Homo sapiens: one gene and its partner. The protein of the gene in region 1 interacts with the protein of each later gene in a biochemical or structural test. Each region holds a gene or a part of one and is shown in the gene's direction. Other genes may lie near its edges.

The links.
Region 2: the proteins of AMACR (region 1) and PEX5 interact in a test that uses a peptide from one of them, tested with the Homo sapiens proteins (one large-scale study listed by BioGRID).

Annotation. Positions count from the first base shown.
Region 1 is NC_000005.10:33,997,922-34,001,747, reverse strand, and holds part of AMACR (alpha-methylacyl-CoA racemase), read left to right. Parts: intron 1-2,920; coding exon 2,921-3,107; intron 3,108-3,826. UniProt on the Homo sapiens protein: Catalyzes the interconversion of (R)- and (S)-stereoisomers of alpha-methyl-branched-chain fatty acyl-CoA esters.
Region 2 is NC_000012.12:7,192,628-7,196,453, forward strand, and holds part of PEX5 (peroxisomal biogenesis factor 5), read left to right. Parts: intron 1-3,826.

The DNA of each region.
Region 1 (3,826 bases):
GCCTGCCTGTGAAGAGCTGGAGGCTGCCTTATTGTAGTGCTGTTTCCTTGGAAACTGTAGTTAAGATAACTCTGGAATATGGAGTGCGTTTTGCTGTATTTACACTCAATCTGAGCCCACATGATGAGCACAGCGTTGTTAAATTAACTGTAGCATAAAGCTGCCCCCTTACGTATTTTAAGTTCCACCTAAAGGTTTCTCTTACATAATGAGCTGTGACCTAACTGGATGTGTAAACAGACTGTAACCTGCTTTTGTAACAAGCAGCAAGTCTCAGCCAATCACAGCAGCCGTACTTCAACTAATCACAGGCGGCCAGCTGTTCAAACCATGTTCAAACAAGGCAAAGGCCCACTTGTAACCAATCCGGCTGTTTCTGTACCTCACTTCTGTTTTCTGTACATCATTTTCCGTCCATAAGTCCTCTTTGGCCCCAGGGCTACACTAGTCGCTCTGAACCTAGTCTGGTTCCACAGACTGCCCAATTCATGAGTCATTCGTTGCTCAGTTAAACTCTTAAATTAATTCGTCTAAAGTTTTTCTTTTAACAGTATCAAAGGTTGGTGGCAAATTGAGGCTGCGGTTTCCCTGTGTCAGGGGGCTCTTCACTCGCATGCATGGTATATGAGTGATGGGGCAAGAGAAGCCGTGTGCCAGGGTAGCCACTGCCAGGCCTTATGATGAGACGAGGAGGGTTCCTGCTGTATTTCTTGTCCTGTACCTCCTCTGATGCTAAGGATTAGACCAGAGCTTGTTTTTGTCCTGAGTGGACCCAACTGGATCTGTAACTCTGTTAACACGTCTATTTTTCAGCAGTCTCATCAGGGCGTTCAACATATAAAAGAGATTAAAGGGGTATTTTATTAGCATAAAACATTTTATGTTTACATATTCAATATTTATATATTATTTTGTCAGACCAACGAAGCTGTTCTGCTAAACACAAACACTGGAAGTTAGAGTTTATGGGTGATTGTCTCATCGCTTTCAGTATTCAGTTTATTACTGTATTTCATTTTGACTGGATGTTAGGAAAATCCTGAGTTACAGAGATAAGTTAAAAATATCCATAGTTTTTACGCAAAAATTAGCTGGGTGTGGTAGGCACCTGTAATCCCGCTACTCGGGAATCTGAGGCAGGAGAATCGCTTGAACCTTGGAGGTGGAGGTTACGGTGAGCTGAGATTGTGCCACTGCACTCCAACCTGGGCAACAGAGTGACACTCCATTTCAAAAAAAAAAAGACCCTATATTTTTAAAAACTTGCTTAAAATTTCAGATTGCATTTCATTTATGATGAAGCAGAACAAAAATACTTTGTTTCTAGGTCGACTCACTACAGTGTGTAAAAACTTCTCACATTCTTTGGCCTGAACATGAAAGCCAGATAAACAGTATTCAGAACTCTCTGCTAAAACTCTCTCTTGCACTGTATGACAAGCTTGCTTCCAGTTCATCTATTACCGCCCTATTGATTCGGCGTTAGGCTCTGAGAGAAGTAAAGCTTGAGCGGAAAGCAGGCACTTGCTTATTGAAGGTGCTAACTTGTTGGTTTTGTATGAGTCAGCACAAATTAAGAGGAGAGGAGAACCATGCAGAACAAAGGTTTTCCTCAATAGTGTTTCAAATACAAGGTAATATTTATGCAAAATTGGAAGGAAAAGCTTTATTTTAAAGTCTAGCAACAAATGTTAATGAGTTGAGGCTCTGATGAGTCAGAATTTGGTATAGGATACATTTAAATATGTGCTTAAATAACATAAACATAAAATATATTTAAAATAGTGCGCATATACATGCATATGTGTATATATGTGTGTGTGTGTATGTGTATAAATGTGGAACTCTAATATCTCTGTAATCCAGCCTCAAAAAAAGGCACTGCCGTAGGCCACTTGCATGAACTCAGCTATTTGGTGACAATAAATGTCACAGCCATAAATTCAGATGTGCGTGAAATTTCAAGTTAAGAGGGAAAATTGGATATATCCAAAGATACATTTTGTGGTTGTTCCACAGTCAGTAACTGAGAAATTGCTAGCAGTTGGAATGAGGCCTGCTCTATTGGTAGCTTTTGAGACGAGGATGCTTTGAAGGCCTTCCTCCTGGGGTGCTGGAGACATTAGGCTCATAAAAGGCATAAAGGTCAGAACATCATCTTCTTCAAATAGTCCAGTGCCTTCAGCCTTTGAGTTTGAGCCTTGTGATAATTGTACTTTATTGTGTAATTACTTCAGGACTCAGTGGGAAGGTGGCGTGATGAGATGACTTTAGGACTCAGTGGGAAGGTGGCATTCCCAAACCAGTTTGCCTGGACTCAGAAAATGCACATACCTGCCATCCATATTGTTAGTTTATTTTATAACTTTCTAGTGATTATGAAATACATTAAATACTCAAATACAGTTTTCTTGGGATTGGAATCAAGCCAGAATAAGCCAAATTTTACTCTTATGTGATTTACCTTTAAAATGTGGTATGGTTTATACATCTGTGTGTGTTTATAGGTATGGAGATCAGAAGATGGATTTTTAAAAGCTCTTTTAATTTTTAACTTTTTATCTTGGCAGTTTTTAACATTATAAAAAGTAGAGAGAATAGTATAGTGACCTTCCATGTACCCTCACCTAGCTAAATCACTAGCATTTTGCCAATCTTATTTGAAATGGAAAGCAAAGGTCATTTCTTCTAAGTCTTATAGTATTTTTGGAACTGAATAGTGCAGCCAATTGTTATTTTAACACAAACTGCTCTAACTCACTTTCTGGAAATACCAGAGAAGTTGTGTAATTAGGTAGAATCTTCGTATACTCTAAGATAAGAATTTTTACGCAAATTTTTTTTAACTTGAATGGGAGGAATTATTCATGCTTTGACACTTGAGTTATCTGGATTTGTCTTGTATTCTGTTTTCTCAAAGGTGGAAGGAACAGCATATTTAAGTTCTTTTCTGTGGAAAACTCAGAAATTGAGTCTGTGGGAAGCACCTCGAGGACAGAACATGTTGGATGGTGGAGCACCTTTCTATACGACTTACAGGACAGCAGATGGGGAATTCATGGCTGTTGGAGCAATAGAACCCCAGTTCTACGAGCTGCTGATCAAAGGTAAGTGAACTTCACGCGTCTCCCCCAGTTCCCCTTTTGCTGTGGATGTTCTTTGGTTCTATTTTAAAGACTTTTGGCATCTAGGATGTCTTTTATTATATAGCCACTTTCTAATTAACCTAATTATAGCCATCAATATAATGTGGGGCATTTTCCATGGCTTTTAAATTGACCAGCAGTCTTACTAGTCTATAAAATAGCTGAGGGTTTTAAAAATAATAATCCCTTTTGTAGGATGTTCGGTGCTTTTATTACAGTTCACTCCTTGTGTTGGATAATCTTGACCCTGTGTGCCCAGATCTTACTCTTCCCTAGAAATGATCTCACATGGGTTGCTTTCCATTCAATATTCTACCAGCTCCTATTTCTTGGTAGATGTCCCTTATGGCACTTCAATGTCAGAAGTCACCAGAGCATGGAAAGATTTTGCCAAATGAGATTCTGTTAGAATATGTTACTATATCACTATGCCTTTGCAGATGACCTGTCTTGCAGATTCTTGCCTGCTTGGCAAGTTGTCATAAATTAGCAAGAAAATTTGGGATCTCTTCTTCCCTAATTAAATAATTGGATGGGAGTCGTTTTGTTCCTGAGAAATGTTTGAATTTAGAGTTCACTCTATAAATAATGTAGAATCTAAGAAGTTTTAGAATATACTCTGAAGTGATGTGAAAGCTGATCACAGTGCATTTACCTTTCTACTACAAGTTTAGAGTTTC
Region 2 (3,826 bases), on another chromosome or scaffold:
AGATACACATAGAGAAAGTTACCAAGTTCCAGGATCTCGGGGAGTCACATCATCATGGTTCCTGAATTTTTCTGAGATGATTAAAGGGACTGAATTGGTTTCTACCCCCACCATTTTAATTTATGTTCTTTCTTCGTTTGCTACAGATTTCAAGGTCTCAAGTCTAATTTTCCTTGAGAGCATCCATTGCTCCTCGCATCCTTTAGGATTGATTCTTCTTACCCGAAGCCTATCTGATCAGGGACAAATGTGTGTGAAGGAGGCCCATGTTTAGGATGGGCTTCTCCGCACACAAGAGAAAAATCCCAAATCTAAAAACTAAAACTCACCTTTAATAAGATCTGTGGGTCTCTTTTATCACGTGTCTCTTTCCCACCCATAAGTTGGAGTTAAGGTAGAACAGTAGGTGCTCTTGGCTTTAAGAGTGCTAATCACTTTATCTTCTTAAGCTCATTAGAACTTCACAGTAACAGTAACACAAGGTGGATATCCCACCCCCATTTTATAGATGAGGAGACTGAGATTTGGAAAAGTTAAATACTTTGTGCAAAATCATTGAATAATAGAGATGATATTCAAACTCATGTCTGTGTGGCTCTTGAGATTCTTTTTTTTTTTTTTTTTTTGAGACAGGGTCTTGCTCTCACCCAGGGTGGAGTGCAGCGGTGCAATCTGTACGCACTGCAACCTCTGCCTCCTGGCTTCAAGGGATTCTCCCGTTTCAGCCTCCTGAGTAGCTGGGACTACAGGCGTGTGCCACCATGCCCGGCTAATTTTGGTATTTTTAGTAGAGACAGGGTTTCACCATGTTGGCCAGGCTGGTCTTGAACTCCTGACCTTAAGTAATCCACCACAGCCTCCCAAAGTGCTGGGATTACAAGCGTGAGCCACCGCACGCGCCCTCACGTTGAGATTCTTTGTGAAATTGCCGCAAGTTAAAATCTGAACCATAGCAAAGACCCTCTCCAAGACAGAAACTCAGTTTTTCACATAAACCTTAGACTTAAGTGCTATCTCTTATCACAGAGAGGCTTCTGTTGTAATGTGGGCATTAGTCATTTTTGATAATTCAGAAAAATCATTGCTACTATGAGCGTTGAGATGGATGAAATTTTTGCTGTAATTACCTGAATTGCATGCAGCCATTGAAATCTTCCTTAACTTGAAATGAAAAAGAACTTTAGAAAAACATGTTTTATCTGTCTCACCAGTTAAATGCTCTTAGTAGAGCTCTTCTAGTATTTTGTAGATTCTTTTGGAATCGTGCCTGTTTCACAGAGGCAGAGACATGCAAACCTTAGAATGGGAGTTGAGCTGTTTGAAGTCTGCCTTCATAAAAATGTCTTATTGCAGCAGTATATTGCTTTGCATGTAGTAGGCCTCTGGTATTGAATGAATGAATTGAGATCTGGGAGAAAAAGCTAAAGGAAAGGAGTTCATTTTGTCGTAACTGACTTTTTTTTATTATCCTTCATTTTTAATTACAGCATTTGTGGTTGATACAATTGTATGGGTTAGCTATGGCTTTATAGATAAGTAGATTTTGAGATGAAAGAAGGTTATACTTTTTAAGTTCTTATTTTAAAATCTCCACTGTTAAGAGTCAAAATCAAGTTTAAAAAGAATGTTGCAGCTCAATTATTTAAATTTAAATTTTTTATTTGGAAGTACTTAGTTTCACTGGAAGTTGAAAAAAAAAATGTATAGGAAGGTTCTGTATACCCTTCACCCAGTCTCCTCCAGTGGTAACATTTTACATAGCAGTTATGCAGAGATCAAAAATCAAGAAGTTGCCCTTGTTTCAATCCTCAGAGTTTATTAGGTTTCACCAGTTTTACATGCCCTTATTTGTGTGTGTGTGTTTTTTGCAATTTTATTAAATGTGTAGATTTGTGTAAGCACCATCATGATCAAGATACAGAACTATTCTCTCACCACATGAAGTTCATTTTTTTAGCTTACCTTATTTTGTAATGGAATCCCCCCGTCTTAAATCTTCTGGGTCAAATAATTCTCCATCTTGTGTTTGCTCAGATCTAGAGATAAAACACATCTTCAGGGTTCTTAAATTTAGACAGCTTCGGTTGACATGGTATGTGAGGTTCATATGATAATCGTGAGAGATAAACCTGCACTTTCATGGGAAAAGCCATGGATAGCAGTAGCAGAAGATAATTGGCAACAGATCTTTTCTGGATGTTGGAGGAGAGGCTTTGGAATAACAGTCTCATTGTGATGTTTTCTGCTTTTGTTATAGGTTTGCCATGAGCAGACTAATGATAATAACTAACATTTGTTACTGTATTCATTGGTTTTCACCGCAGCCCCTACTGTTATCTCTGCTTTAAAGATAAGGACATGGAAACTTAAGAAGGTTGAGTAACTAGTCTGAAGATGCACAGTGAATAAGTGATGGAGTTAGGATTTAAATGTGGGTAGACTGACCCTACAACTTGTATTCTTCTCCACAGTGCTGCTATTTAGCAGACACAGAAACTTTCATGAGTAAGAGTAGCAAGTTCTGAGTTTTTGACTTTTGAGCTTGGGGAAGATGTGCCTAGAAGGAATGAGTAAACAACGAGAAATTATATGAGGTGCACATTTTGAGTGGGGTATTTGGTGTCTAGGTTATTCTCACTCTACTAATCTGTATGACCTCAGGCAGTGCATCCCCTCTGTAGACCTTAGTTGCCTTGATCTCAGATGTATCCACATGGATCTGATTTTCTGTAGGAATTTCTCAAAGATTGTGAAGGCAGTGTGTTACTCTTTTGATTCTTTCGGTTATTTGACTCTTGTTGGAGTAGGTTCCCAATGCCAAGAAATTCTGGGTCTTGTGGCGATTTAATCTGGCCAACTACCAAATTATAGGTATTTGAGGATAGTTTTTCTCAGCTCTGGGATTTTTTTTCTTAAACTGCCTCATATCTATTGTTAAGTCCTCATGTCTGTTGTAAAAATTCAAAGGTGCTTTGTGTTTTTTCTGTTTTTTTTTTTTTGTCCTTGAGAGGACCATTTCATAGGAATTTGAAATGTTTTCTGTGAATTTGAGGAGCACTTATGGCCAGAATATGCTTTTGCAAAATACTCTAGTTGAGAGTTAGAAGTGTTTGGAGAGTTGAGGAGGTAGTAGTTATTTTTCAACAGAATGGAGCTAAGAATTTCAACTAAGAATGGAACTAAGGAACTAGGAGATCTTAAAGTCTCTTTGAGTATTAAGCATCTCCTTTCCGTCTCCACACTTGAGGCAACAGTCTAATTGGGGCAAATGGAAGAGAAATGCTTCCTGTAAGAGCTAGTGAGCAGAATCTGTATTTAATTTTTGAGAGTCCTTGAAATTAACAGATGGATCTATGGTCAAAAAAAATTGCCAACCATATTTCTTATTACATTATACATTATATATTATATATATTATATATACATTTTACATTATATATAATGTATATATAATGTATTTCTTATGTTATAACGTATTTCTTATTACATTATGTTATATATAATGTATTTCTTATTACATATGTTACATATAATGTATTTATTACATTATATATTATATATAATGTAATATATGTTATGTAATAATTATATATGTCATATATAATTTAATTATATGTCATATTTAATTATATATGTCATAATTTATATATGTCATATATAATTTAATTATATGTCATATATAATTTAATTATATATGTCATAATTTATATATGTCATATATAATTTAATTATATATGACATATATAATGTAATAATTATGTGTCATACATATATGTGTCATATATAATGTAATAATTATATGTGCCATATATAATGTAATAATTAT